Regions from separate parts of the Homo sapiens genome. Here region 1 is linked to region 2. Evidence: fine-mapped expression QTL. A gene starts in region 2. The other region holds a variant in brackets. All regions are shown on one strand. Distances are between the middles of the regions.

What was found. PIP is the estimated chance that this variant, and not a neighbour inherited with it, causes the effect.
Region 1: its variant is fine-mapped to the expression of ALDH1L1-AS2 in testis (GTEx, PIP above 0.99).

What each region holds. Positions count from the first base shown.
Region 1 is chr3:126,198,913-126,213,899 of GRCh38, reverse strand. ALDH1L1-AS2 (ALDH1L1 antisense RNA 2) reads right to left here. Exons shown (of 2, transcript NR_046383.1): 2 at 3,731-5,574. It overlaps LOC124909426 (a long non-coding RNA gene), which reads right to left and starts at 868. Exons shown (of 3, transcript XR_007096060.1): 1 at 1-868. RefSeq lists enhancers at 1-393, 4,572-5,771. The variant C/T (reference allele first, on the strand shown) is at 6,651.
Region 2 is chr3:126,171,344-126,186,330 of GRCh38, reverse strand. ALDH1L1-AS2 (ALDH1L1 antisense RNA 2) reads right to left here and starts at 6,266. Exons shown (of 2, transcript NR_046383.1): 1 at 5,787-6,266. It overlaps ALDH1L1 (aldehyde dehydrogenase 1 family member L1), which reads left to right and starts at 5,745. Exons shown (of 23, transcript NM_012190.4): 1 at 5,745-5,855. RefSeq lists enhancers at 1,431-1,725, 4,576-5,329, 5,330-6,085.

The sequences.
Region 1 (14,987 bases), 28 kb before region 2:
TGGAAGGCCCGTCTGCCTTTTCCGCTTCAGACTGCAACAGGGCTTTGCTCCAAAGTGCTGGGAAACGGCAGTTCCACTACTAGACAGGTCTGCACCCCAGAGAAATGTGTGTGCGCGTGCACCAAAAACACACGAGAACGCTCACAGCAACCTTATCCCTTCTAGCCCCAGACGAGTGCCCATCAACAGCAGAAGGGGTAGATAAAGCGGGGCTCACCCTCGCAGTGACCTGAACACGGCAGCGAGAGCACACTGCGTGGATGACACACAGCGCCGCGTGGAAGACGCTAAGCTCCGGGAGCCCGCGGTGTGATCCCCTCGCCCCAAAGCGGCGCAAGGGCCCCAGGCGCCAGGCCCTGCGGGGCCCGGGCAGCGCGCGACGCGCTGTCTCTCCACCTGGGGACGGCTGTCCGGCGAAGCCAGTAAAGCTCAGTAAGCTGTAGCTCAGGGGGCACGTCAGGACGCGCACTCCACGCCAAAAAGTTAAAAGAGGTCTGCGCCAGGGAGGCGCGCGGGCGGGAGACCTCGACTCTCAAAGCGCCTCCTCCAGGCTCTCCGCCGCGTCCTCTGGGGCTGGGGCGGAATCCTCGCATCCCCGCCGGGTCTCCCTCCAGGCCGCCGGGCTCCGAGCGGAAGGGCCGCTTCCATGGAGACGGCTTTTTTGAGCTCGGACAAAGCACTCTGGCTGCGGCGAAGGGCCGCGGCCGCCGGGCGGCGCCTTCCGAGGGCGCAGGGCGGACGCGGAGGCCCGAGAAGGCGCGGGGAGGGTGGGGAGGGTGGGGAGGCGAGAGGCCGGGCCTCCGCGTTCCCGTTCGCTGCGGGACAAAGCTCCCTGTCCTGTCCCTTCCTGGGGGCGCCCCTGCCGTGAGAAGCAGAGCCGGCGGTGGGGCCCAGCCCCTCCCAAGGGCGACTCCCCCACCCTCCACAGGCCGGGGCCTGAAGCCGTCACAGCGGGGTTCGCTGCTTCCCATTCAGGCTGTGATGGCCCGAGGCTCGGCGTGGTCTCGCTCTCTTCTCAATTAATCCATTTTAGGGGGACAGGCAATACATTTACATGGTTCAAACACAAAAATGATGGAAAAGTTAGCTTTGAAATACTTGCTTTCCCCCAGCCCTATCGACCCTGTTCTTCGGTGCCCCCTAAAGGCACCTTCTGCTCTTTATCTATCACAGGCTTATGCCAAATGCCAGCAAAAGAATGCAGCAGGGCCACTCCGCTTCTTTGTCACAGCAACCGGAGCCTAGGCTGCCCTTGTTGTGTACCCCTCCCCGCCTCCCTCCTTCCTTCCCTTCCTCCCGCCTTCTTGCTTTCCCTCCCTCCTCTCCTCCTTCCCTCCTTCCTTCCTTCTTCCTTCTCTCCCTCTTTCTTTCCTCCCTTCCTCATTCCTTCCTCCCTTCCTTCCCTCTTTCCTTCCTTCCTTCCTCCCTTCCTTCGTTCCTTCCTTCCCTCTCTCCTCCTCCCTCCCTCCTTCTTTCCTCCCTTCCTCCTTCCTTCTTTACTTCCTTCTTCCTTCCCTCCTTCCATCTTCCCTTCCTCCTTCCCTTCCACCCTTCCTCCTTCCTTCCCTCCTTCCATCTTCCCTTCCTCCTTCCCTTCCTCCCTCCCTTCCTCCCTTCCTTTCTTCTTCCTTCCTCCCTCCTTCTTCTCTCCTTCCTTCTTTCTTCCTTCCCTTCTCCCTCCTTTCCTTCCCTCCTTTCCTTCCTTCCTTCCTTCCGTCCTTCCTTCCTTCTTCACTCCCTCCCTTCCTCCCTTCCCCCTCTCCTTCCTTCCTCAGTCCCAGAGCCCTTTCCATAGGCCTGCACAGAGCTTTTTCATTCTTTCTGACATCCGCCTCAAGTGCTCCAAGGTGTACCCATGATCTTTTCAACGGACACCCTGTGGATAGGAACTTGGGCTGTGTGCTTGCCATTTTGTGCTCATACAGGTGTATCTATAGGGTCAATCTCCCCTGTTTTTGACATCCTGACCTACCGCCCGCTGACCCTCCAGCCCCACCATGGCAGTGTATCCAGTGTCAACTACCTGGAGACTTGCCAGGGCTATAAGTCTTGTGGCCCTGACTTCCTGGCTCAGCAGCCGTGAGTCTCTGCCTGCAGGGGACTCCTGCTGAGAGAGGACTTGACTGACCAGATCTGCCTCCTGGGCAGGCCCCTTAGATGGGACCTTGTGTGAGCCTTTGGTTTCCAAGGACCAAACCATGGAAGGCTCAGAGTGACTAAGAGGTTCAAAGACTCTTAGGCAGTGAGGCCCACAGGAGGTAGGAGCCCCCAGCGGTGTGATGTGGGAGCCGGGTCAGATGCAGAGGCGGAGGACGGGTGTGGATAGGGGCAGGCTGGAGGGGCTTAGCAGGGGGACCCCACACACTGGGCTGCCAGCCTGCAGCCTCCAGGGCCAAGTGTGAGGCCTGTGGGTGTGGGGGTCCTGTGTGTAAGGCCTTTGACTTCACCTGTGTGAGAAATGAATATCTCAGCCAGTGGGTGAGCTCTGTGTCCCACCCAAGCATGAAGCCCACTTTCTAATCTTCATGTGAACTTCATGATCCATGATGGAAGCTGATCATGATGGAAGCTGCCTGTGACACCTTATTCCTATCAGTATCCAATCAGTATCTGTCAAGCACTGTGGGAGGCTGTGCAGTTATTCCCAAGTTGTTCCCTGGAGACGGAGCTTCCCGGCCCTCGTGACTCAGTCTCTGCCACGGGCAATGAGCAGTGTGGCAGATGTGGCAGCTCCAGGCGCCATCGGTGGCTGCACTGTCGCTCTTTCTCCCTTGGCAGCAGCCTGGCACGTCTGGTAGGGGCTGCTGCATCAGCCTTGATTCTGGAATGAAGCTGACATGGATCAAGACCCAGCCATGCTGAGAGAGGCATAAATATGCGAGAGAAATAAACCTTTGTTATTTGAAGTCCCTAGGACGTGGGGTCGTTTGTTCTTTGGTATGACAGCTTAAGCTGGCCCATACAAGCTCTTACTCCGGCCAGGCATAGGACATAGAGCAGGGAATGGGACAGACGTGGTCTCTGCCCCTGTGGAAACATGAGGACCTGGGGAATGGCCACTCCCCCTGGCAGAGAAGCCTGGAGAAAGCAGGATTAGGGCAAAGGTCTGGAGTTCTGTCTTCAGTGTGCTAAGCTGAGGCGTCAACAAGATAGCCAAAGAGAATTGCCAAGTGTATGGTCAGGTGCACACATCTGCAGCTCAGGAGAGAGGCTTGGTGTGTAAATCTGGGCATCAATGGAACATGGATTGCCAGCGAGGAGCTAGGCACTGTGGGAAAGGAGGTAGCTCACACCCCTCAACCCCCACCACACCACGGTTTGGCCATTGGTTTGTTCCTGAAAAACATGAACCTTTTGGAAATCCACAAAAGTCTCCTAAGGGAAGAAGAAATGGGTGGGAGGAGACTTGCCATCGCATGTAGAATGTGGATTCAGGCTGCTTGTTTTTTAAATTATGAAATAGAAACCCCTGATAATTGAAGGACTTGGGGATATTAGAGTTGGAGGTATTTGAGTTCATATCCCAACCCCCTTAAAGTAGTGTTTCCAAAATTGGGTGTGCATATCACTGGTAGTACACAAGTTGATTTTAGGGGACATATGAAATCTGTTATTTTATAGTTGTGCTATTTTGTTTAGTTACCCTTTGTTTACGGCATGTGATACTGGTTTTCCATCTTCAGTGATGATATGTGCAAGTTACAGAAAGATATTTAAACAAAGGCAATAATTTGATTTAAAGGAAACTTTTAATAATCGCACATATATTGTATAAATATGCCATGAAAACTAAGTGACTCAAGTTTGAGAAACACTTCTTTAAAGGTAAATTCTGATGCCTGCATGCAACAGATGACAAGGGGGGTACGGTGTAGTTTAGTGGCCTGGCCAAGGGCCCTGGCTACTCCATGGTGCTACTGGGATACACAGCCAAACCCGGGAAGATGGTCCATGTCCTCCGAGGCCAGCTGGAAGGGCTTGTCCAGTGAGGCAGCTACAGGGCTGGGCCTGGAGCCCAGGGCTTCCCAGTGGATGCTACTGCTCAGCCCTCCTGGCCCACATCTCTTAACTCACTTGGAGGGGGTCCCTCCTGGAGGCAGGATGCCCCTTCACACCCTTATCCTCCCTTCTCATTTTCCAACGTGGCCAGCAAGTGCTTTGATCTCTCTTGGAAATGTCTCTGGCCTCCTGACTTTAGGAATGAAAAATGTCCACACCGTGGCCTGGTGGGGGTGGGGTATGAGTGTTAAAAATCAGTCTTCCAAGTGGAAAAATATTTGATGGGAATTTTGACAAACAGTTGGGGAAGGATTAGGATAAGAATGAAGTGATTTATGGAAATGAAACTATGGCCGAAAAATTCAAATTTTTTTTGTCAGCATTCCAAATGACAAAATTATTTCATCACTAGACCTCGCCAAGGCTTTCTGAAAGTTGAATACCCATTGGTCTTCCAGGGTCCAGCTCATGCCCTGCACCAAGAGTAGGGATGGGCGAGGAGGGTGTGACCCAGCAGAGAAAGTTTCAGTTTGTGAGCAAACACCTGTCATGTCCAGGAGGCCTGGAGACCTTGTGGCTCTTGTCACATGATGAAGGGGTTGAAGAAATTCATCTACACACTGTGGAACCCGGACTCAGCCCTGGACCACAACTTTCCCTCTGTCATTCATTGGCTGTGACACTGAGAGATCAATTTCCCCTCTGAGCCTCAGTTTTTCCATTTGCAGAATTGGGGAAGGAACCCCCTCCCTCTTGGGTTTGTTGTGCGAAGGCAATGAGGTGTTTCCCATGTGCAGCTGTGAACACCATGAGAACACATGCCACTCCCCATCTTCCCAAGAGCCTTGACGCCTTCTGCATGGGCATGTCTTCCACCGCAAGCAATAGAAACTGTGTCTGGTTGACTGGAGCAAGAATTGGAGAGGATGTGGGTAGCTCTCAGAATCAAAGAAAAAGTGCAAAATCAACCCATAAGAGCCAGCGTGCAGACAGTCCCCTCTTAGGAACTGAGGGACACTCCTCAGGGAGCCATGGCAGCAGCACAGCAGGTCAGCTGTTTCCGTCTTGGCATGGCTCCACTATGACTCAGCGTCCTGGGGGAACCAGAGTCTGATTGGCTTGGCCCGTGTCCCAGCTCCTCGCCCAGGAAATGCCTCAATTGATTGTTACACCAGGACTGCATGCAACATAGACTTGTGCCCTAGAGCCAAATCAGTGAGTGCCATCAGAAGGACCGGGCATGGGGAATGAAAATAAACCACCACCGCCAACAAAAAAACGGGGGAACCAACCATAAATTCCTTCCGCTGAATGTTGGAGCCCATCTTTTCATTTGCATGATCCACCCTCTCCATTCTGTGTCTTCCAGTTGCAGCTACTCTTCAAGGATCACTAAGGACCATTCCACCTACTGAACAGTGATCACAGCATCAGTGTGTTAACTTCTGCTGTGAGCACCAATCTTCACATTCTCCAAAGTGCTGTGTGATTGCAGTTCCTATCATATCCACTCTTGTTGGCTTTTCACACGTACTGATGAGCTGTCAAGGCAGGAGATCCCCCATTTCCAGGGCCCTACAGAGGTTCAGATGAGAGAAGAGACAGGAAGTGAGTGACCTAAGCTCATAAGGCTTGTACGTGATGGAGCTAGGGCTTTACTTACTAATTTTAGGAATTTTTCTGTTTATTCTCTTGAGACTTCTGCAGATCAAAATCATTGTATCTGAAAATAGTAATGTTTTATGTCTTCTCTCTTAATAATTATGTATTCTATTTTGTTTTTATTTTATTGCACTACTAAAAAATTTTACAATAAAAAAGTGACAGCTGATACCTCTATTTATTTCCTGGACTTGATGAGCGTGTTTCTCAGGTTCTGCTGTAAAGCACAATGTGTAAAGTATGTAAAATGGTAATACTTGGCATACAGTAAGTGCTACATAGGTGTTAATATTTGCATCACTCTGTAGTTCTGAACTCATCTGCCTAACAAGCACAGCCTGCCCCCACTATCCCTCCTGTGCCCCAGACATGGGTATAGCTGAAGAGGGCCTTGGTTTGGTTTGATTCCATCATGTATGCACTCAGTGGAGACTCAGTAAGTGTTTATTAACTTAAAATGCATGCCCGAATGAACGAATCAGTCCATTGAGTTCTAGCGGCCCTTACCTGGGACACGCTGGCCTCATGGCCAAGGAAAAGAGCTTGCGGAACCAGGTGATGATTTTTAAAGCTTGGTATGGATAGTCTCCAAAGACAGTCACCATCAATTTCTTTCCTCCCTGTATGTGCTGGATGATTCTTACACCAAGTACTGGAATCTTGCCTTTGTCTTACTAACAAAGTCTGGACTAACCTTAGTGACTTGCTTAACCAATGGATTGTGATGGAAGTAACATTCTAGGACTTCTGAGGCTGGGCTTGTAAGATGCCTGGATCTCTTGATAATGTTCCCTCCTGGAATTTAGCTGTCAGGCTGTGAGAATCCCAAGCCATGTGGAGATGCCATATGTGAGTGCTCCAGTGAAGAGCCCCCACTGAGGCTCCAGGTGACAGTCAGAATCCACTGCTCACTGTGCGACTCGGCCATTTTGGACATCCGGCCCAGCTGAGCCTTCAGGTGGTGTGCAGCCGCAGCCAGAAACTGACTA[C/T]CACACATAAGAAACCTAAGAAAGAACTACCGCACCCAGTCCACAGGGCCATTACATCATAATGAACCATTATTTTAAGCCACTCTGTGTTGGGATGGTGTTTTTGTTTTGTTTTGTTTTTTTGTTTTATTTTGTTTTTTGTGAGACAGAGTCTTGCTTACAGGCTGGAGTGCAGTGGCGCGATCTTGGCTCACTGCAAGCTCCACTTCCTGGGTTCACGCCTTCTCCTGCCTCAGCCTCCCGAGTAGCTGGGACTACAGGCGCCTGCCACCATGCCTGGCTAATTTTTTTTTGCATTTTTAGTAGAGACGGGGTTTCACCGTGTTAGCCAGGATGGTCTCGATCTACTGACCTCGTGATCTGCCCACCTCGGCCTCCCAAAGTGCTGGGATTACAGTGGGATGGTTTTAAAAGCAGTAACAGATACCCAGAGAGCTTCTGCTTAGAAGGCACACATCACTTCCCTGCTCAGAATCCAGCACTGAACTCCCAATTTATTGGTCAAGAAGTGATGTCCACAGGGCAGAAAAATATGGGCATTCCTCAAAGACGTAGCAAGTATTTAGGGATAATAGTAAGAGAATAAAGTGGCTGGATATAAAATAAACACAGTGATAAGTTGCATTTATATATACTTGCAACAACCCTTTACAAAATAAAGTGAACAAAGATCTCTTTTACAATCACAATAAAAATAAAATATCTAGAAACAACATTAGTGCCTTGGATACATCTAGTTCCTAGTACAATCCCCCAGGGAGGCTGTGAGAAGTTTTGTAATGAGCTTGTTAACAGAGATTGTATATTGGGAAATTTCCAGCAAATTTGCAAATTGGCATACTACTTCTGCCAAATGACTAAAAATGTTCTGTTGAACTGCTAAAACTTTCCTGTGTATGTGCTGAGGTTGTGATAAAATGGCAAAGTAGGATGGCTGGTCTGATTGGACTCCAATTGAAACATTCTCTCAAGTATGTGCTAAAGCAAAAAGCATGAAGTCAGCTGCAAGTGAACAAGTTGTCAGGCTTGTGCCTCAGCTTCCATGAAAGGAGCTGGCAGAGGCAGCCCTGCTGACCTCTGAGCTTTGCACGACCTGGGTGTCCAGCATAGATCTGGGTATGACCTCCAGGAGGAGGCAGGCAGCCTTCAGGGCTGCAAGCTTCTGTTAGAAGCTTAGCAAGCGTCTCTGACCATCACTTCCTCTGGAAATGTATTCTTTAATAAACCATTGCATTCATGAGTGAAATTGAATAAACATCCCAGGATTCTCAATCTTTGGGAAAAAGCTCATTCTAAAGTCACAAATTGTCTCACTAGAGAAAAATGCCACTGTATGCAGTACACACAAATGATTACATACTGCTTCTAATGGTTACTGACTCTGTGACCCTTGTCCCCAAGCCCCAAGTTGAGAAAAGCTTGTATTTTAGAGGTTTGAATGACAAGGGGAGGGAAAGGATAGGGAGATGAGACAATCCCTCCCCAAGATGAACCCTTCCCGCAGGTGTGTCCATCTCCTAGGTGCAGCCACCTCCCAGGTGTACCTTTCTCCCAGGTATACCCTTTCCCCAGGTATACCCACTCCCCAGGTGTACCTTTCCCCTAGGTACACCCTTTCCCTAGGTGTACCTTTTCTAGGTGCACCTTTTCCACAGGTACTCCCTTCCCCCAGGTGCACCCACATCCCAGGAACACCCTTTCTCCAAGTGTACCCACTCCCTAGGTACACCCTCTCCCCAGGTGCACCCACTCCTCAGGTATACCCTTCCACCAGGTGCACCCTCTCCCCAGGTGTACCCTTCCCCCAAGTGCACCATTTCCCCAAGTATACCCACTCCTTAGGTGCACCCTTCCCCCAGGTGCACCCTCTTCCTAGAGGCACCCACTCCCCAGGTGCACCCCCTCCCCAGGTGTACTCTTCCCCCAGCTGTGCCCTCTCCACAGATGTACCGTCTCCCCAAGTGCACCTACTCCCCAGGTGAACCTTCTCCCAGGTGTACCAACTTGCCATGTGTACCCTTCCCCCAGGTGCTCCCTCTCCCCAGTTGCACCCTTTCCTGAGGTACACTCACTCCCCAGGTACACCATTCCCCCAGTTGTACTTTTCATCCAGGTGTGCCCTTCCCACCAGATGCTCCTCCCCCTGGTGTGCCCTTCCCCTGGGTGTACTTGACTCACTTTCCTTCAGTAGGTTTCCGCTCAGTTATCACTCTATCATGAAGCTTCCCTCACCACTCTGTTTAAAATGCAACCTCCCTCAACTCTCCCTCTCCTCTCCCCTACTTTATTTTTCTCCATTTCATATAGCTGATAATTCCCATCTTTATTATGCTTATTGTCTGTTCCCAGTCAGGTAAGTCCTATGTGGTGTTTTTTTGAAATTTTGTTCTTTGCTATATCTCAGTGTCTGGGACAGTGTCCAACATATCCTAGGTGCTCAGTACACATTTATCAAGAGAATGAATGGATTGGACACATCCATCTCCCTTCCCTGACTCTGAACTTCTGGAGCACAGGGACCCTGCCTTTTTCATCCAGGCCAATACATAGCAAGTGCTTGTTTAAATGTTGGTTGAACTCAGTGGCCCACCCATTACAACATAAAGACACCAATACTTTCAGGAAGCTTCAGCGAAAAACCCTTATAGAAAAAACTCTCCCAGGTGTATGCCCTCTGCACCAATTGCAAAGCTCTCGACCTCATTAAAAAGCATTTCATTAGAAGGTGACTGATATGGTTTGGATTTGTGTCCCCGCCCAAATCTCACCTCAAATTGTAATCCCCAATGTTGGAGGAAAGGCCTGGTGCGGGGTGATTGGATCGTGTGGCCAGATCCCCACTGTTGCTCTTGGTATAGTGAGTTCTCATATCTGGTTGTTTAAAAGTGTGTGTCACCTCCCGCCTCTCTCTCCTCTTCTTCCTTCTCTGGCCATGTAAGATGTGCCTGCTTTCCCTTTGCCTTCCACCATGATTGAAAGTTTCCTGAGGCCCTCCCAGCTATGCTTCCTGTGGAACCATGAGCCAATTAAAACTTCTTTTCTTATAAGTTACCCAGTCTCAGGTAGTTCTTTATACAATGCGAGAACAGACTAATACAGTGACCTCATTGGGATTTATGCAATCTTATCAGAAATGAAATTTCACAAGTCCACAGTATCAGTGCCATGGGGAACCTAAGAATCCCGGAAGTCAAGGGCAGCTCTTTGCCTGTCCTGAGCCCTCAGCACAGGGAATCAGTGCTGTAATTGAACTCACTGGAGTAACCCTATAAATGGAGAGATGGCCGCGTGTGAGTCTAAGCAGAACTGGACTTGGCAGGGAGGACCCAGGCAGCCCAGGGACACGGTGCCCATGTTCCCGTTTCCTGTAGAACTTTGCAAGCATGATACCCATCTCTAGCATGAGCCATCAGGGCCCCAGCATGGACCTGAAATCAGAGCCTGCAACCCCCGTGTCTCCCTCCTTCTCTTTCTCAGCCTACATCCCTGCTTCCTTAGCCATCAGGCCCTGCTAGGGAGGCTGTCCCAGCCCTACCTGGCCTGACCTTTGGGGCCTGAGAGGGTAAGTCCAGCCTAGGTGTGTGTGTGGGGGGGTGGGGTAGACAACAGCCAACTGCCTTAGGAGCAGGTTCCCTACACACAGACCCCTGCTCCCTGAATGTGGCAGAGGGATATCCAAGGACGTGTATGTGTTTGCCTGTTCATTAGCTCACTAAGCCCTGCCTTCTGCAGACACCCTGGTGGTGCTAGGTGTACAAGGATGAGACAATGGACCTCCCCTTCTGCACCTGAAGTGGGCCTGCTGCACACATCCAACAAGAGTGGAAATACCAAACACATTAATAAGTGCTTCCAAATAATACGCTTGCACAGCTATTGCCCAATGAGTAATTTCTGATATGCTCTGCGGAGTGTTTGTCAGGACAGATGAAGATTTATTCCTTGTGCCAGCCCCCTTCTCTGCATTTTCCCTTTCTCCCCAACCCTCCAATCTCCCAGTACGGATGTAGTAAAATATTGATAAATTTTACAATCTATTATACATTAGTAGTCTATTAAGACTATGTACCACACTGCAAACGCAATAGTAGTATATGGTGGGGTTTTTTCCTAGTCCAACTTTTTGTTTCGCTTAGAGTTAGTGATGACCTCATTTTAAAATTTGCTTCATTTTGGTGCACTGATCTTTATTTATTTTTTCAAAATGCTGCATTAGACCTGTCAAGTACATGGCCATATCCTTTATAAGGTGCCTCATCTTGCAGACTCTGTCAACCCCACTGTGCCCCAGCACCTCTGCCTTGCTGCACAGGACCTCTGGCTGCCCAGCCTGCAGGCATCCTGAGACTGACTGTAGCCCGTGTCCTGTACCAGTACCCGCCCCCACGGCTCCTGCATCCAGATCTTGCTGTTCCTTTGTTTGTTCTGTTTTTTTTTTCTTTTTTTTTTTTTTCTGGATTGCGTGCTCCAGTGGCTTCTAAAAAAGAGTTTTGAGGAAGGGGGCATATTTTCAGTCCTTCTTTGAGTTAACAAGTGCTCCTGTTTCATTGTCTCATGTTTCATTGGGAATAAAATATTTAAAAGTGGGTTCCTGTCTTCCTTTCAAGTGCAGCACCACCTTTTTCCAAGATGCTGTTGTTATTTGCATCCTAGTTTCCTTGTCCAAGAGCTGTGTGGATGTGGTTGTCAGCATCTCTCCTTTCCCTTTCTCATGAATGTCTGCTTCGCAACTCATCCTTAGTGGGCATGAGGCCAGTCTTTGCCATCTGGGTGTCCTGGCCCTTCAAGTCTGAAATGGAACTGGCTGAACTTCCCACCTGCTGTGGTGGAGTCTGGGGCCGTAGCTAAGAAGGCACAACACTGTGATTGTCTGAGAATGTCTGCAATTGTCTGTGATTGAACGCTGTGATTGTCTGAGAGTGTCTCAGTTCAGTGGTCAGTCTATTCCCTACATGTCTAATAAATGAAAAAAGTTTCATACAGTAACTGGAAGTCAACTAGAATATATGCGACTTCACTTATTGTTCAATGTTGGGTTGATTCATGGGTGGATTTTCTAAACCTTTCATCTTTTATGGGTTGATTTTCTAAACCTTTTATCTTTTATGTTATTTTCCATTTATTCATCATTTTAATCTAATTTTTGGAAGGTGTTTCTAACTTTATATTTCAAACCTATTGAATGTCATTATTTCACTTATCTAATTATCTTCTTAGAATCTTTCTTGTTTTCAAATTATTTTTTTATTGAGACCAAAGAAGCTACATAAAATGTTACAAGCCTAAATTTGAACTGAAAGTTTCAATATCAATTTCATTTTGTTTTTGTTTTTAGAGACAGAATCTCACTCTGTCACCCAGGTTCAAACTCCTGGGCTCAAGCCGTACTCTTGCTTCAGCCTCCTAAGCAGCTAGGACTACAGCTGCATGCTGCCATGCCTGGCTAATATATTTTTTAAAAAATCTGTAGAGACTGTTTTGCCCAGGCTGGTCTTGAACCCCTGGCTTCAAGTGATTCTCCCACCTTGGCCTCCCAAAGTGTTAGGATTACAGGCGTGATGCTTGAATAGTAACAAGAGTTTTTGCAGGATAGTAACAGGCCTTCAGTTCTGTACACAAACAACAGTAATAGCAATTGCCTCAGGGAAGTCCAAAGAGGGTGAGTGGGTTGTTAACTTTTTCTCTATTCATTTTTGGATTGTTTCGTGTTTTATACCAAGCACATATTCCTTTTGTAGTTAATTTTAACCTTATAATAATTTCTGTTTACAGATCTTACATGTTGTGTTTAATGGGTTTTGGCAGTTTCACAACCTGCACAGCCACCATCTCGAACAAGCTAGAGGACATTTCATTGCACCAAGAAATATCCTGGGGTTGCTTTCCGGTCAACCCCACCCTCACCCAGTGACTGTGCTGACTTTTATTACCATACATTAGTTTTATCTGATCTCAAACATCCTGTAGAAAAGTCACACAGCATGTACTATTTTGAGTCTGGCTTCTGTCACTTAACATAATATTGCTGCATGTATTCCTTCCTTTTTATTAATAAATAATACTCTACTGTATAAAAGTATTAATTTTTTTATTCATTCTCCAATTGGTGGGCATTTGACTTGTGTTCAGGTCTTGACTATGGTGAATAGGCTGCTGTGAACATTCTACAAGTCTTTGTGTGGATGTATATCTTCATTTCTCTTGGGTAAAATACACAGAAGTGGAATGGCTGGGTCAAAGAGTGCATAGTTAATTTTTAATAACATAATTTGAAAAATAAAGCAAAAAGCTACAGCAATTACAAAAGGTGGTGGCCAGCCCAGGAATAAGCAAACACCAACTGCAGAGAATGGAGAATATAAGAATGTGTGTGCTTCCCATCTTCAGCCTCAAGCGGGCCCTCATGGCCACAGCCACCTCAGGAACCCTCCTTAGAACTCTTCAGTAACATTTGTAGGGGCCATTGATTTGAATCAGGCTCCTCTCCTGCATCCAGCAGACCAAGCCAATATGGAGTCACTCATGCTAAATGTCACTAATTTCCTTAAGAGTATACTAAGGCAACAAATAGCTGAGTTTGGTTAGTTAAGGCTTGAGCCTTATGTCATAGTAGGCAGTCAGCCGACCCAGTGAGATAAAACGCTGAGCTGTAGCCAACTTAGTTGTTCTTTTTGCTCCATGTTGGTTTTCTGTTCATAAATGCTGTCTGACCATGTGGCAGGCAGGAGTTCTCTGAACTTGTTCTAGTTCTAAGGGCTGCCCAGCTTGCAAGTTTTTTTCCCCTTAAATAAACCTGATAAATTTAAGCTTGCCTGAGGTTTTCCCTTTTCAACAGATCAGTGAATGTGAAGAAACTCAAAGAGGAGCATAGTGACCCCCAGGAGCAGGGGGTGGCAAAGCAAAGGCACCCACCAGGCCCATTGTGCCCACTGATCCCCTGGAACTGGGGATGGTGGATTGAGCCCTCTCGGATTCTGAGCTCCACTCATTCGGGTTCTGAGCTCTCTGAGCTTATTTGAGAAATTTGATCCAGACTGGGTTCAGAAATCTTCAAACTGGACTGGATCCTATAGAGGTTTCAGATGTCTGGCTGGGTCAAGAAGAAACTGAACTGGGTGTGGTAGGTAGGGTTCCTAGGAGATAGGGAATCATGGGTTCACTGGGATCCAAGGAGCTTAGAACTCCCCCATCTGGGACTCTAGTCAATTTCTTGTATATGAACTATGGACCCAGAATCAGGGCTTTTCTGGAGAAATGGGTGAGCCTTACCAAAAATAATTTAGAGTTACAGCAGCCACAGTGGGGAAGTTTGTTTGCTTGTTTGATGAGACAGAGTTTTACTCCTTTTACCCAGACTGGAGTGCAATGGTGCGATCTCGGCTCACTGCAACCTCTGCCTCCTGGGCTCAAGGGATTATTCTGTCTTAGCCTCCCAAGTAGCTGAGATTACAGGTGCACACCACCCCCCGCCCCCAGCTAATTTTTGTATTTTTTGTAGAGATGGGGTTTCACCCTGTTGCCCAGGCTTGTCTTGAACTCCTGGTCTCAAGTGATCCATCCCCCTCAGCCTCCCAAAGTGCTTGGATCACAAGGATGAGCCACTGTGCCTGGCTGAGAAGTTTTAATTTAGATAAAATTGTTTATTTTCAGGGAAAAATTAGAAATACAAAGAGAAAAAACCCACAAGAACAACGGAATGCATTTTTAATTGGTATGCAGAAACATGTAAAAGATTAAACAAAGAGTGTCTGACTTAAAGGTTTCTTCCCAGGAGACAAATAAAAAGCTTAATCAGCAAACTGAGGACCAGAGGAAGGAGGACTGCCGCTCATTGAATTGAATTAACTCTGACTGCTCCTTGCTGTCTTTGCCATTACTTCAATACCCTGAGTCCACTGATTGTTTTGCTCAAGTACCTTTCCATCTTGAGGAAAATGAAAAGGAGAGGTTGGACAACTGTCTTACAAAGTGAGACCCTCTGAACACCTAGGCCTGCCTGCTGTAACCACTTTTACTCCATGCTCTGAAGCTGAACTTAGAGCCTTCATAAGATACTTTCCTGATGCAAGAGAAAATCCTCAAATGTTTACCTAGGAATTTAGAATCCCCATAGGAGCTTATGATCCAGGAACTTCTGACTTTATCAATTTATTCACTTGATTTTGGGACTTGGTAAAGCTCAAAGGTGTATGAAAGCAGCAGAATAGAGAGAACCCGAGGGGATATTAAAGACCTTAAAAAACCTTCTTGCTACAACAAGCTGGAAGAACACTGAAAACCTTTTAAATTCAGTTCCTAAGTCTTCTCCACAAAAAAAGGATCCATCTGTCAGACAGT
Region 2 (14,987 bases):
CATCAGGGACAGAGCTTCCAAGAAGGCCCAGTTGCTCCTTTCAGCTTTCTGATGCTACATGAGCTTTTCCAATGCAATTATGGTGATGGCTGATGGAAACTGATTTTTTAAAGTTATTATTTTTAATTGTGGTAAAATAAACATAACCCAAAATTTACCATTTTAACTATTCTTTAGTGCACAGTGCTATGTTTTTAAGAGCATTCACACTGTCGTGCAACCATCACTGCCATCCATCTCCAGAACTTTTTCAACTGAAACTCTGTCCCCATTAAACATGAACTCCCCATTCTCCCCTCCCCATGGCCCCTGGCACCCCCCATTCCACTTTCTGTCTCTATGAACATGAGTACTTTAGGGACCTCATAGAAACAGAACCATTTGTCCTATTGTGGCTGGGTTAACTCAGTTAGAATAAACTACTCAAGATTCCTCCATGTTGTAATGTGTGTCAGAATTTTCTTCCTTTTTAAGTCTGAATAATACTCCAGAATATTGACTTTTTAAAGATGTTTTTACTTTGCAAAATAAGAAAATGAGAATCTAATATCAGTTACTGGAATGCTGTTGAAATTGCCCTGGCCTATGAAATCAGAACATCTTGTTACCACTGGACAACAGAGTGAAACCCACAGTCTGCACCCCATGTTGTGGCCTCGTGACCCCTGACTTTGCCAGCTTCTCTCCTGCAGCTGCAATGCTTTCTCCTGATTCCTCAAAAACAACCCACATCCCCACCTCCATGCACCAATGCATCATTCTTACATTCTCTCCAACTGGAACGTTTCTTATTTTTTGCTGGTTAAAGTCATCACAGTCTTACTGGGCCTTATCTCCCAGGTGAAGCCTGAAGTACCCAGACCCGCTTTCTTCATGTCTCACCTCTGTGATGGTTCACATCCCCTCCCACCTTTCATATCTGCCACCTGTGCATTCATCTCCCCCATAGAGGTGCGAGCACCTGGAGTAGAGACACCGTCCCTGCCTCCTCTTTGCTCATTTATTCCTTTACAGTGAGTTTCTGGGGGCCATGTGCCAGCCAGGTGCTGGCACCAGCCAGTTTGCATGGGGGTGCAAACACGCAACACCCCCAGGTTAGATTTGGCATGGGGCTGGAGAGGACCTGGCAGGAGCAGGGCTGTAAGCTCTGTGGCCCAGAAGCATTCCATCTATGTCTGCAGGTCATCAGGTGGGCTCTGGTGTGTGGCACAGAGCTCTGTTAAGTCTCATCCCTACCTTCGCCTCTACATGAAAAATTGCATGCAGGCCCTTTAAAGGGGGAAATATGGAGAAAACCATTTTGAATTCTTGGTTCCCACTGGGGAGAGGTTCTAAGGGGTGGGGATCAGGTGACATCATGAGTAACTCACGAGGCAGGGTAGAAGCATCTGAACGAGGCATCCTAGGAGATAAAGAGAAACACTGGCTCCAAAATTAAAACAAAACAAAACAAAACAAAAACAAGCCCAGGTCACTTGGCCTCCCCGCTTTGATTTCCCACAGGCTATGACCTTCAAGTTAATGTTTCCTTTGCAGCGTACACACAGTCCCAGTTACTGATTCCCCAAAAACAAGCTGAATCATCATTATACAACAGAAAGAGAACCCATGTCTATCCCATCCCCCATTCACAGAGCCCTGAGCCAGGCTTGTCTCCTAATCTGCCTCTGGATTGGAGCAGTAGCCCCCATTGTTCTACCCAGACTTGGGCTGTGTAAGTGCACACTGCTTTCCCTGGGAGGACTTAGCCACCAGGGCCCTGCGGAAAGCCCGGGCAGAGGCTCTCTCTGCAGGGCTTATCCAGCCACTGTCACTGCAGGTGCCTCTCCTGGATCAGGGCCTGTGCAGGGCTGTGGGATACACAGATGAAACAGGCCCTGTCCCTGCCCTCAGAGGTGTTGCAGTTGATAAAGAGACAGACACACATATAAATAGTTGCATTAGAGTGTGGTCTGTGCTGTGAGTGAGGGAATTCCCAAGGAGAAGGTTGGGGTCAGGCTTCCCAAAGGAGATGATGCACAAGCCCATCCCTGGGGCACAGGCAGGGCTCAGCTGGTGGCTTCAAGAAGCAGGGCATTCCCGGCACAGTGAACTGAACTGGCAAAAGAGGGTTTCAGTGGGACTCGTTCAGAGAGTATCATATAGTCCTGGGACAGGGACAAGCTGGCTTCTGCCACTGTCTGACCTCAAGCCTCAGCTTCTCTCTCTGGTCTATGAAAGGATGGATTCGGAAATCACACAGTTACTTCCACCATCTTTCATGTGTTAAAAGGAAGTCACTACGTTCAGCCTACATTCAAAGGCAGGGGAATTAAGTGCCACTCCTTGAATGGAAGAGCATCAGAGAGTTTTAAAATGACCACAGTCCACCTACTGGCCACAAACTACTTACATCCTTCCACATGCAAAATACATTCGCCCTCCAAACATCCCCTCAAAGCCTCATCCCACTGTAGAATCAGCTCAATATCCAGAATCTCTGCATCTAAATCAGGCTTTGATGTGGGTGAAGCACCTGGGGTATTATTCCCTCAAGTGTAGCTCCTTGAGTAGAGTTGCTCTCAATCTACAGACTTAGGAATTCCAGAGACAAATTAACTGCGCCTCCCCCCTGCACCCACCTGACATAAACTGGTGGGATAGGCATTGGATAACCACTGTAGACGTGCCTGCTCCAAAGGGAACAAGGACAGGAGGCATGCAGGAGTAACTAGTGTACGGCAATTCTAAAATCTTCCTGGGCGGGTCCTGAAAGTCTCTTGAATAGGACTCAGTCTGACTCTGGCCCCAGAGTGATTCTCCACGCTCTTGGCTCCACCCTTTGGGTTCTTTGTTCTATTCCCCAAGTCATCCCTTCTTTTCCATGAAATGCAGCCCAGGTTCATATCCGTATAGTTTCTCAGCTTGCTTCCTCCCAGAATTTGGGGGAGTCTAGAGGTCTCTTTTCATTTTATATTGTCTCTGACCCTTTCAGTCCAAGTCTACACTGTTTTGCTCATATAATTCTTTTAAAAATGTTGCATGTCTCCTGTAGATCTCACTGAGGTTCATGCCTTTAGACAACTGTCAAACCCACACATCTCTTTGAGAAAAGCCCTTCTCTCTCTTGGGCTTCTGCTGAGACTGCTGTCAAGGACAACTGTAAGCTTCTTAGAAATCCTACTATTTAACAAAATATTCTGAGGTGTCCCTTTGTTCTCTTTGAAGATTTTACAAAAGATCTCATGACCACACTCTTGGCTTCATCTTTAGGCCATCTTCCTTGCACTGGCCTGCATTTGCTCTTTGCCTGGAAGCCATTTGTTAGTTTTAGCATCATATGACATCTGGAGAAGCTGGACATTTTCACAGCCCAAGTTATGGTTCCTTTTTATTTAACAATCCTTCCTTTGGCTTATGTCCCTTCTCTCACATTTTAGTATAAGCAGCAAGAAGAAGCCAGGAGGAGGCACCTTCAACAATCTCCTTAATGAGATCCCCCAGTTCATCTGGTACATTTTCTACTTTCCACATGATTTCGGAACACTTTCTGCTTAAAATTCCCTCCTCTCCTGCTCCATACCTCTAAGAGTATGGATTCCTCTCTGATTTCCTAATACATCTTTTTGGGGTGTCTAACCTCCAAGCCATTGTTCAGTGGTTCCTGTCGCCCATCTGCCTTCTCAATTTTAACTCCCAAGTTCAGAACACACCACTTTCCCATTGCAGGCCCCTAACACTCAGCCAGTTTTCCTACAGATTATATGGCACACCTTCCACACACAGGGCATGCATTCAGCCCTGGGGACTTCCCAGGAGAATAAGCTAGTCTTCGCCATCATTGTCCAGAGACATGTTAATCAAGCAATCCCAGAAGCAGTGATAAAATTGCAGTTGAAGGCAGGGTGCAGTGGCTCATGCCTGTAATCTCAGCACTTTGGGAGGCTGAGGTAGGTGGATCATCTGACGTCAGGAGTTTGAGACCAGCCTGGCCAACATGGTGAAACCCCGGTGAAACGTCTACTAAAAATACAAAAATTAGCTGGGTGTGGTGGCGCATGCCTGTAATCCCAGCTACTCAGGAGGCTAAGGCAGGAGAATCGCTTGAACCTAGGAGGTGGAGGGTCCATTGAGCTGAGATTGCACCATTGGACTCTAGCCTGGGTGACAGAGTGAGACTCTACCTCAAAAAAAAATAAATAAATAAAGTTGAGAGAGGTTCATGAAGAAAAATTACAGGCCTCTCTGTGATCACATAATGGAGGAATCTGTCCTAGTAAGGCTGAGGCTAGGGAAAGCTTCCCTGAAGTCATGGCATTTTAGTAGGAACTTCCTGAAGAATGATGGGGGTTCTCTGGACAAAGATGAACGGCACATGGAAACTTTATGAGTCGAGAAGTTCCACAGATATGAGGGACAGCAGGGAGACCTGCAGGCTGGAGCCTAAAGAACAAGGGGACAGTGCCTGAAAGTAGGCTAAGTGGATCAGCAGGCACAGGCCACCTCAATCCTGGGTGCCCATACTGGCTTATGTGAGCAAAATACATGCATTAAGCCATTCAACAAACATTTATTTAGCAACTGCTACAAGCCATCACTGTGTATTGGGGATACAACAGTGAATACATCTCACAAATTTCCTGTCCTCAAAGAGCTTACAGTCTAGTGGGAGAGACAGACAATGAACAAACAAAGAAACAAGGAAATATCAGATATACAGTTAAGTGCTGTGAAGGAAATAGAACAGGGTGATGTGGCAGGGAGTGGCTGAGGGACTTCCTTAGTTTGTGTGACCTGGAACAGCCTCTCTAAGGCTCTGCATCAGATATCTGATATGTGATACCATATGGGAGCAGGCTCTGAAAGAACACTACAAGTAGAGAGGTAAAGGCAGGGGCTGCAGCAAGCCTGATGTGTTCAGGCACTGAGCAGAGAGAGGGCCAGGTGGTCGGGACTTAGCGAGAGGGTCGCCTCAAAAGAAGTGAGGCTTAGCAGGGCACGGAGCAGTGCGGCCGCAGGTGTGGTGGGAAGGGTGTTCCAGGAGAAGGAGCCACCTGGACACAGGCTTGCAGTCATGAAACAATACGCAATTATCACTCCCGGCATTCTACATGGCCTTGCCTGAGACCGGGCTGGCCAGGATCTCTGGGAACCAGGAGGAGGGGTCTGCGGCACCAGGACTGAGTAGAAGGGAGAGAGTGGAGAAGGGGAATTGCAGAGAGAAAACCAGGGGCTGTTTTTCTCTCGGAGAGGCGGGTAGGCACTGGGCGGGCAGAAGCGCCGCTATCCACCCGGATGCGCAGCTGCTAAGGGGCCGCCTCTGCAAGCGGCTGCAAATTCCCGGAGGGCAGCGTCTCCTTTCGCTCTGCTGTGTCCGTAGCACATGGCAGGTACTTGGCCCATCAAGAGTGAGAGAGGGTGAGCGAGTGAGTGAGTCACCGGCTTGGCGAGGGTCTCCTCTGACCCACTTAGCCTTGCCAGCGCTCAGAACTGCCAGCCCTGCTGGGTGCTTGGGACTTTTCAAAGCCCTGGGAATTCTCCAAGGGTCCACAGTAAGTCTTCTTGACCTAAGCGGGAAAGAGCGCAGGCCCCTGCGGGGTTGGCTTTTACATGGCATTTATAGACCCGCCCGGAGAGGGTGCGCTGCGCTCCCGCCATAGTCCCACCACCGGTGAGCGCCGCCCCCACTCGGCTGACTCTCCGCCCGCCCCGCGCCCCTCCCCTCACGGGCTCTGGCCTTAACCAGAGCTCGCGGACTGGCGGGGACAGGTCCCACCTCCTGGCTCCCAGGACGGGTCTGCACCAACCTCAGTTTCGGGGCTGCGGCTCACAGAAGTCTAACCTGCCCGGGACGCCCGCACCAACTCCTGCGCGCGGTGAGTTTCTGGGCTCTCGAGAGCGCTGGACTCCCGGCGGAAAGGAGGCTGCCCCGGCTGCAGCTCCGGGGGCTCCGGGGGCTCCAGGGGCTCCAGGACTCGGTTCTCACCGCAAGGGCTCCTGCGGGGCCCATCAACTTCGCCGCTGGGACGCCGGGCTCGGGGTACGGGTCCGGAGTTCTTTGGAGCAATTGAGGCTGAACCTGGCCAGGGGTCATCAGGCTAAATGACCGCAGCGCCAGGACTGGCCCGCCGAGGATCTGGCCGGCCGCGGTGGTAGGGCCCTTACGGAGCTGGCGCCAACCTGTGGGGTGGGCACTGCTGGCCCGGCTTATGGAAGAGAAAACTGAGGCTCGATAAGAGAAAGGGACCAGCGAAGGCGACGCGATGATTTGTGACTGGGGACTACCTGTTTCCTGGGCCCCTCGACCCCATTCTGTGACAGGGAAAGGTCTTCCCTGATTGGCCAAATCTGGGGGCCTGGCACGAGGGCCTCTTGTGATTGGAGGGGTCGACGTGAGCGCTCAGGGGCTGCGCTGGAGTCCCAGCTCCAGCCACTGCGCTCAAGTGGACGGTCGCGCGTGCAGAGGGAGGCCGGATAGCAGACCCCACAACGTGGCTCCTGGGGCCCCGCTATCGAGAGCTCAGGCCCCGCGGGCACTTGCCTAGGAGAGGAAAGAATCTTCCCAAAGTGCAGACAGAGACGGAATTTAATCAGGAGTCCCAGACTTGGAGTTTGGAGGCATGGGCTCTGGTGTCAGGTGACTTTGTTTCCTCCCCACGCCTCCACTTCTCCTTGACCTTGGGCAAGTTTCTTGTGTTCTGAATCTTAGTTTCTTGTCTCTAAAATCGGGAGGGGCAATGAACAGTAGTGCCTGCCTCCCAAGATTGCTTGAGAATTACATGAGACTGCCCCGCGCCTGGCCCTAGGAAACCCTCGGAGAATGTTGGCTGCTGTTTGTTTGTTTGTTTGTTTGAGACAGAGTCTCGCTCTGTCGCCCAGGCTGGAGTGCAGTGGCACGATCTCGGCTCACTGCAACCTCCGCCTCCCGGGTTCAAGTGATTCTCCCGCCTCAGCCTCCCGAGTGCTAGAACTGCATTCATGGGCCCCAGGGCCCTAGCACCAGAACAGAGGGCCCAGAGCTGCAGTCCTGCAGGGTGGCCCAGCCTCACAGGGACTAGAAGCTGGGTCCTGGAGAGCCAAGCCTGGGCTGGGAATTGGGTAGGAGGGTTGGGAGGCCCAGGAAGCCTCCCAGTGTCCCCACACCACCAAGTGAAAGGACACTGAGCGGCCATGACTGGGGGAGGAGGTGGAGGCCTGGAGGCGGCCCATACGGCCCACAAGGGGCTCTATGGGCTTCACTGCAGGCCCCTGCTCTTTCTGGGGCCAAAGGGCAAGCCTGATTGAGGCCCCTCCCAAGGCTCCCGTGCCTGCCATTCTGGCTTTCCCTGGACTGTGACAACAGCCCCTTGGTGGCCACCTGGACTCTGCCTCCCTGCAGGGGGGGAACGACATACTCTTTTATTTTTTTTTTTCAGAAGTAATCATGTACAATATAAAAAAAGAACATTCAGTTAAGAAAACAAAATAATTACAGTCGTCAAAAACCTCTGAAACCCAAAACCCTTTACCCAGTAACTTTCAACATTTCAGTGTAAATTCTTCTAGGCTTTTACCCTGCAGATAAACACACGCATGCACACACAGACACACACACACACACACACAAACTTAAGCCTTACACAATTATCGTGGTTTGTTACTTGTTGGGTGTTTTGACAGTGTCAGGTTTGTATAACTCAATATTTACCAATATTTTCTAATAATTTAATGTTTTCTTCTTATATTTGATTTTCAAGTATTTATTTTTAACCCAATTGGACTGTATTTTAGAGTAAGATGTGAACTATAGAGCTAGATTCATTTATTTATTTCAATTAGTAGACATTTTTAGAGCAGTTTTAGGTTTACAGAAGAATTGAGGACGGAGTGCAGAGTTCCCATATTCTCAGTCTGTCCCTTCCTGCGCGCTTTCTCCTATTTTTCTTTCTATTCTTTTCCTTTCTTTTTTTTTTTTTCTTTTTTTTTTTTTTTGAGACAGGGTCTCACTTTGTTGCCCAGGCTGGAGTGCAGTGGCACAAACACAGCTTACTGCAGCTTTGAACTCCTGGGCTCAAGTGATTCTCATGCCTCAGCCTCCCAAGTAGCTGGGACTACAGGCATGCACAACCACGCCTGGCTAATTTAAAAATTTTTTTGTAGAGATGGGTCTCACTTTGTTGCCCAAGCTGGCCTTGAACTCAAGGGCTCAAGTGATCCTCTGCCTTGGCCTCCCAAAGTGCTGGGATTACAGGCATGAACCACTAGGCCTGGCCTCCCCTATTTTTAACATCATGCATTGATAGGATATTTTTGTTACAGCTTTTTTCTTTTTGAAACAGTCTTGCTCTGTTGCCTAGGCTGGAGTGCAGTGGCACAATCTCAGCTCACTACAGTTTCTGCCTCCCAGGTTCAAGCAATTCTTGGGCCTCAGCCTCTCGAGTAGCTGGGATTACAGGTGCACCACCATGCCCAGCTAATTATTGTATTTTTATAATAGTAGAGACAGGGTTTTACCATGTTAGCCAGGCTGCTTTTGAACTCCTGGCCTCAAGTGATCAGCCCGCCTTGGCCTCCCAAAGTGCTGGGATTACAGGTGTGAGCCACCAGGCCTGGCCAATTTTGTTATACTTGGTGAGCCAATATCGATGCAATGTTATTAATGAAAGTCCATAATTTACATTAGAATTCCCTCTTGGTGTTGTACCTTCTATGGTTTTGGACAAACATATAATGATGAGTATCCAGTGTTACAGTATCATAGAGAATAGTTTCACTGCCCTAAAACTCTCCTGTGCTCTACCCATCCACCCCCCAACCCCCCTACCTATCCCTGGCAACCACTGGTTACTGCCTTTGTAGTTTTGCCTTTTCCAGAATGTCATATAGTATGTATGAATCATATGGTATATAGCCTTTCCAGACTGGCTTCTTTCGCTTAGCAAAATGCATTTAAGCATCCTCCATGTCTTTCTGTGACTTGGTAACCCATTTCTTTTTATCATTGACTAATATTCTGTTGTATGGATGTGGAGGTACCACAGTTTATTTCTCCATTCACATACTACAGGATATCTTGGTTGCTTCCAAGTTTTAGCAGTGAATAAAGCTGCTATCAACATTTGTGTGCAGGTTTTTGTGTGGACATTAGTTTTCTTCTCCTTTGAGTAAATATCAAGAGCGATTGATGGATCACATGGTAAAAGTATGTTTCGTGTTATAAAAAACTACCAAACCTTTTTCCATAGTGGTGGCATAATTTTTCATTTCTACCAGTAATAAATAAGAGTTCCTGTTGCTCCACAGCCTCATCAGCATTTGTTGTCAGTGCTCTTAATTTAACTCTTCTAATACGCATATAGTAGTATCTCATTGTTATATTTTAATTTGCAATCTGTAATGACTTACAGTGTTGAGCATCTTTTTAAATGCTTCTCTGCCATCTGTATATCTTCTTTTGTGAATGTCGGTTAATTTACTTGGCCCATTTTAAAATTGGGTTGTTTGTTTTACTGTTGAGTTTTAATAGTTCTTTGTATATTTTGGATAACAGTGCTTTACCAGATATGTCTTCTCTCCCCAACCATGGCTTGTCTTTTCATTCTCTTAACAGTGTCTTTTGCAGAGCAGAAGTTTTAAATTTTAATAAGGTCTAATGTACCATTTTTTTTCCTCCATGAATTGTGCTGTTGTTGTTGTATCTAAAAAGTCAAATCCAAGTTTTGGCAGTTACAAATAAAGATGCTGTAAACATCAGTGTACAGATATTTGTGTGATTTTTGTGCAATGCAGATTTTCTCCATTGTCTTGCCTTTGTCTCTTTGTCAAAGTTCAGTTGACTGTATTGATGTGAGTTTACTTCTGGGCTCTCTATTCTGTTCAATTGATCTATCTGACTATTCTTTTGCCAATACCGTACTGTCTTGATTACTGTAGCTTTATAGTAAAGTCTTGGGGACAGGCAGTATCGGTCCTCTAACTTCGTTCTCCTTCAATATTGTGTTGACTATCCCAGGTCTTTTGTCTCTCCAAATAAACTTGAGAATCAGTTTGTTGATATCCACAAATAACTGCTGGGGTTTTGATTGGGATTGCATTGAATCTATAGATAAAGTCGGAAAGAACTGACATCTGGACAGTATAGAGTTTCCCTACCCATGAACATGTACTATCTCTTCATTTATTTATACATATTTTTATGTTTTCATCAGTTATGGTTATTCTCACATAGATTTTGACCTATTTTAGGTTTATGTATAAATAATTCACTTTTTGGTGCTAATGTAAATGGTTTTGTGTTTTTAATCTCAAATTTCAATTGTTTATTGCTAGTATATAAGAAAGTAATCAATTTTTGTATATTAACCATGACTTTACATCCAGCAACTTTGGCAGAATAACTTATTATTTCCAGTTTTCTGTTGCTTTGTTGGCATTTTCCACATAGCCAATTATGTTTTTTGAGAACAAGAACAGTTTATTTCTTCCTTCCCAATCTGTAGACTTTTCATTTTCTTTTCTTTTCTAATTACATTAGCCAGCACTTCCAGTATAATGTTGACTAGGAAGGGTGAAAGGGAACATCCTTGCCTTATTTCTGATCTTAGGGGAAAAGCTTCTAGTTTCTCTCCATTAAGTATGATGTTAGCTGTAGGTTTTTCATAGATCTTCTTTATCAAGTTAAGTTCCCATTTATTACTAGCTTGCTGAAAGCTCTTATCATAAATGAATGTTAGATTCTTGTCAAATGCATTTTCTGGATCTATTGATGTGATCATATAATTCTTCCTTAGCCTATTCATGCGATGGATTACATTAATTGATTTTCAAATGTTTAACCTAGAATAAATCCCATGTGGTGGTTATGTATAATTCTTTTTAAACATTGTTGGATTCAATTGCTGATTTTTTTGAGGATTTTAACATCTATGTTTATGAGAAATATTGATCTGTTAGTTTCCTTTCTTGTAATGTTTCTGGTTTTGGTACCAGGGTAATTCTGACCCAAGAAAATTAGAGAATTTCCTCTACTTCTATTTTTTGAAAGAGATCATAGAGAATTGGCATAATTTCTTTCTTAAATGTTTAGTCATATTCATTAACCCTAGTGCTTTCTATTTTGGAAGGCTACTGGCTCCAGTTCTTTAATCAGTATAGGCCTATTCAGATTATCTATTTCTCTTTGTGTGAGTTTTGGAACGTTGTACTTTCAAGGGATTGTTTCATTTCATTTAACTTACCAAATTTGTTGATATAGAGTTGTTCATACTAGTATTTTATTATCCTTTTAATGACCGTAGGATCAGTATTGATGGCCCTTCTTTCATTTTTGATATTAGTAATTTGAGTCTTCTCTCTTTTTCTTCTTAGTTAACCTGGCTAGAGGTGTCTCAGTTTTATTCATCTTTTCAAGGAACCAGCTTTAGGTTTTGTTGATTTTCTCTATTGACAGCATGTTTTCAATTTCACAAGTTCTGCTGTAATTTTTATTATTTCCTTTCTTCTGTTTATTTTGGATTTAATTTGCTCTTCTTTTTCTAGTTTCCTAATTTGGAAACTTGCTTTTAGCTCTTTCTTCTTTAATAATATATGCATTCAGTGCTCTAAATTTCCCTCTAAACACTACTTTAGCAGCATCCCATAAATTTTGATGTTATATTTTCATTTTAATTTAGTTTGAAATATTTTAAATTTTTTCTTGAGAGTTATTCTTTGATTTGTTTACATGTTGTTTAGAAGTGTGTCATTTAGTTTCCATTTTTTTAATGTTTTTCAGATATCTTTCTGTTATTGATTTCTAGTGATTCTGTTGTGATCTCAGTAATCTCCATCATAGAAGTCATTGATATTTGTTGTTGTATGTTTTATGGCACAGAATGTGGTCTGTCTTGATGAATATTCCATGTGAACTTGAGAAGAATGTGTATTCTGTTGTTGTTGGGTGAAGTATTCTCTAAATGCCAATTAGATACACTTAATTGATGGTGCTGTTCAACTATGTCCTTACTGATTTCCAGCCTGCTGGATCTATCAGTTAGTGGGTACTGGCCAGGCACGGTGGCTTACGCCTGTAATACCAGCACTTTGGGAGGCCGAGGTGGGCAGATCACCTGAGGTCAGGAGTGCGAGACCAGCCTGACCAACATGGAGGCTCTACTAAAAATACAAAATTAGCCGGACGTGGTGGTGCATGCCTGTAATCCTAGCTACTCGGGCGGCTGAGGCAGGGGAATTGCTTGAACCCGGGAGGCGGAGGTTGCAGTGAGCCGAGATCGTGCCACTGCACTCCAGCCTGGGCAACAAGAGTGAAACTCCGCCCCCCCAAAAAAAACGTTAGTGGGGACTGACAGAGAGGTGTTGATGTCTCCAACTGTAATAATAGTGGATTCATCTATTTCTCCTTAAAATTCTGTCAGTTTTTGCTTTACACATTTTAGCACTGTTGTTAGGCACATACATATTAAGGAGTATTATGTCTGCTGGGATAATTGACTCCTTTACCATTATGTAGTGCTTCTCTTTATTCCTAATAATTTTCCTTTCTCTGAAGTCTGCTTTATCTGAAGTTAATAGAACTACTCCATATTTCTTTTGATTAGTGGTAGCACGGTATATCTTTCTCCATCCCTTTATTTGTAACCTATCTGGTTTTTATGTTGAAATGGGTTTGTTGTAGACAACATATAGTTAGGTCACGATTCTTTATTCACTCTAGATAGTCACATGTTTTAATTGGTATATTTACACCATTGATATTTGAAGTGATTTTTTGATATAGTTGGATTAATATTTACCATATTTATTACTGTTTTCTATTTGCCCTTTGTTTCTTTTTTCTTCCACACTTTTTTCTGCCTTTTCTGATCTTAACTGAGCATTTTATATGATTCCATTTTCTTTTCTCTCTTAGCATATCAGTTTTACTTTTTTGTTGTTGCTTTTTTAGTGGTTGACCTACAGTTTGCAATATACACTTAAATCTAATTTAAGTCTGCTTTTGAATAACACTATACAACTTTATGGGTAGTGTAAGGGCCTTATTGCAGAGTATTCTTGATTCCTCCCTCCCATGCCTTATTATTACTGCTATCATTCATTTCACTTATCCATAAGCTACAATCACTGAATACATTGTTGCAATTATTATTTTGAACAAATTGTTATCTCTCAGATTAAGAATAAGAAAAAAAATTATTTCACATTTATTTCTAATACTCTTTTGTATGTTGAGTTTCTGACTTGTTTAATTTTCCTTTTTTTCTGAATTACTTCTTTTAACATATCTTGTAAGGCAGTTTACTGGTGACAAATTCCTTCAATTTTTGTTTGAGAAGTCTTTCTCCTCCACTTTTGAAGGACAATTTTACTGCATACAGATGGAATCTAGTTAGTTCTAAGTTGATGGAATGTTTTCAGTTCTTTAAATAATTCTTTCTATTCTATTCCTGATTGCATGGTTTATGAAGAGACGTTTGATGTAATCCTCATCTCTCTCCCTCTATAGGTAAGGTGTCCTGCCCTGCCTCTCCCTGGCTTCACTGAAGATTATCTCTGTGTCTTTTATTTTTTGCAGTTTGAATATGATATGCCTAAGTATAGATTTTTTGGGGGGTGGGGGGTGATCTTTATCCTATTTGGTTTCCTCTGAGCTGCTTGGATCTTGGTTTGGTATCTGTCTTTAATTTTGGAAAATTATCAGTCATTATCACTTCAAACATTTTTACTATTCCTTTCTTTCTTTTTATTCCATCTGATATCCCTATTACAAGGATTTACACCTATGGCAATTGTCCCACCATTCTTGGATATTCTGTTTTGTCTTTTTTATTCTATATTTCCCTTTGCATTTCAGTTTGGGAAGTGTTTGTTGATATTTCATCCATCTCATTGATTATTTCCTCAACTGTATCCAGTCTATTGATAAACCTATTAAAGACATTCTTTGCATTTATCACAGGGTTTTTATTTCTAGACTTTTTTTGATTTTTTTCTTAATTTCCATCTCTCTGCTTACATGACCAATTTGTTCTTATATGTTCTCCACATTTTTCCATTAGAGCTCTTAGCATTTTAATTATCATTGTTTTAAATTTTCCATCTGAAAATTCCAACATTGCTTCCATATCTGATTGTGGTTTAGGTGCTTGTTTCATCTTTGCAAACTGTGTTTTTGTCTTTTATATATCTTGTAATTGTTTTGCAGAAAATCAGATATAATGTATTGGGTAAAAGGTACTGAGGTAGATAGGCTTTTAGTGTGAGGTTTGATATTTACCTGTCTAGGAGTTAGAATGTGTTTACTATTTGCTATAGCTGTGGGTATCAGAGGATATAATTTTCTCTCTTCATCTTCTTGTTTTTGTCTACCCTGTTGTCTTTGGGTTTTTGTAGAAACTCCTTAAATAGGCTCTGGCTTGCAGTTCTCTTATCCGTAATCCCCTTGTTACTATACTGGAGCCCTGTGGATGTAGTAGCAAGGTGTTTTGGTGGGGGGAAGTGTTTTACAGTCCTACAATTAGGTCTTAGTGTTTCAGTGAGCCTGCACCCCTGGGCTGTGACCTTCACAAGTGTTTCTCAGTCCTACCCCTTTTAGGTGATGAGAAAGGCTAGAGGGGCTGGATTTGGGTTTTTCCTCATCACTTAGGTTAGTTAGGCCCTGGGTGTCCATTCACTTAGGCTCTGGTATAATAGTTTCTATGAGGGTAGATATGTTGAGAAAAAAATGACTGCTTTCCTTGCCTCCTGCCAAAACCAGAAGGGGATTTTTCTCCAATCCTTACTGTGAGAACTGTAAGAATTAAAGAAAGAGGAAAGAAATACAAAAGCTGGCTTGCCAGTTAAGACATTTATTTTAGAGAAAATCAACCTGAAAGGAGCCTTCTGGCCAAGTTAGGTCAGAGGCACACTCTCTTACAGACTGAGTTTTTAAGGATTCAGGATGGGAGAGTTTATCAGAGGCTTGGACTGCTTCTGTGTCTCTTTGTTGTGCTTATCTGGGAGGGAGAGTTGTGTGCCTGTTTTCATACATTTTT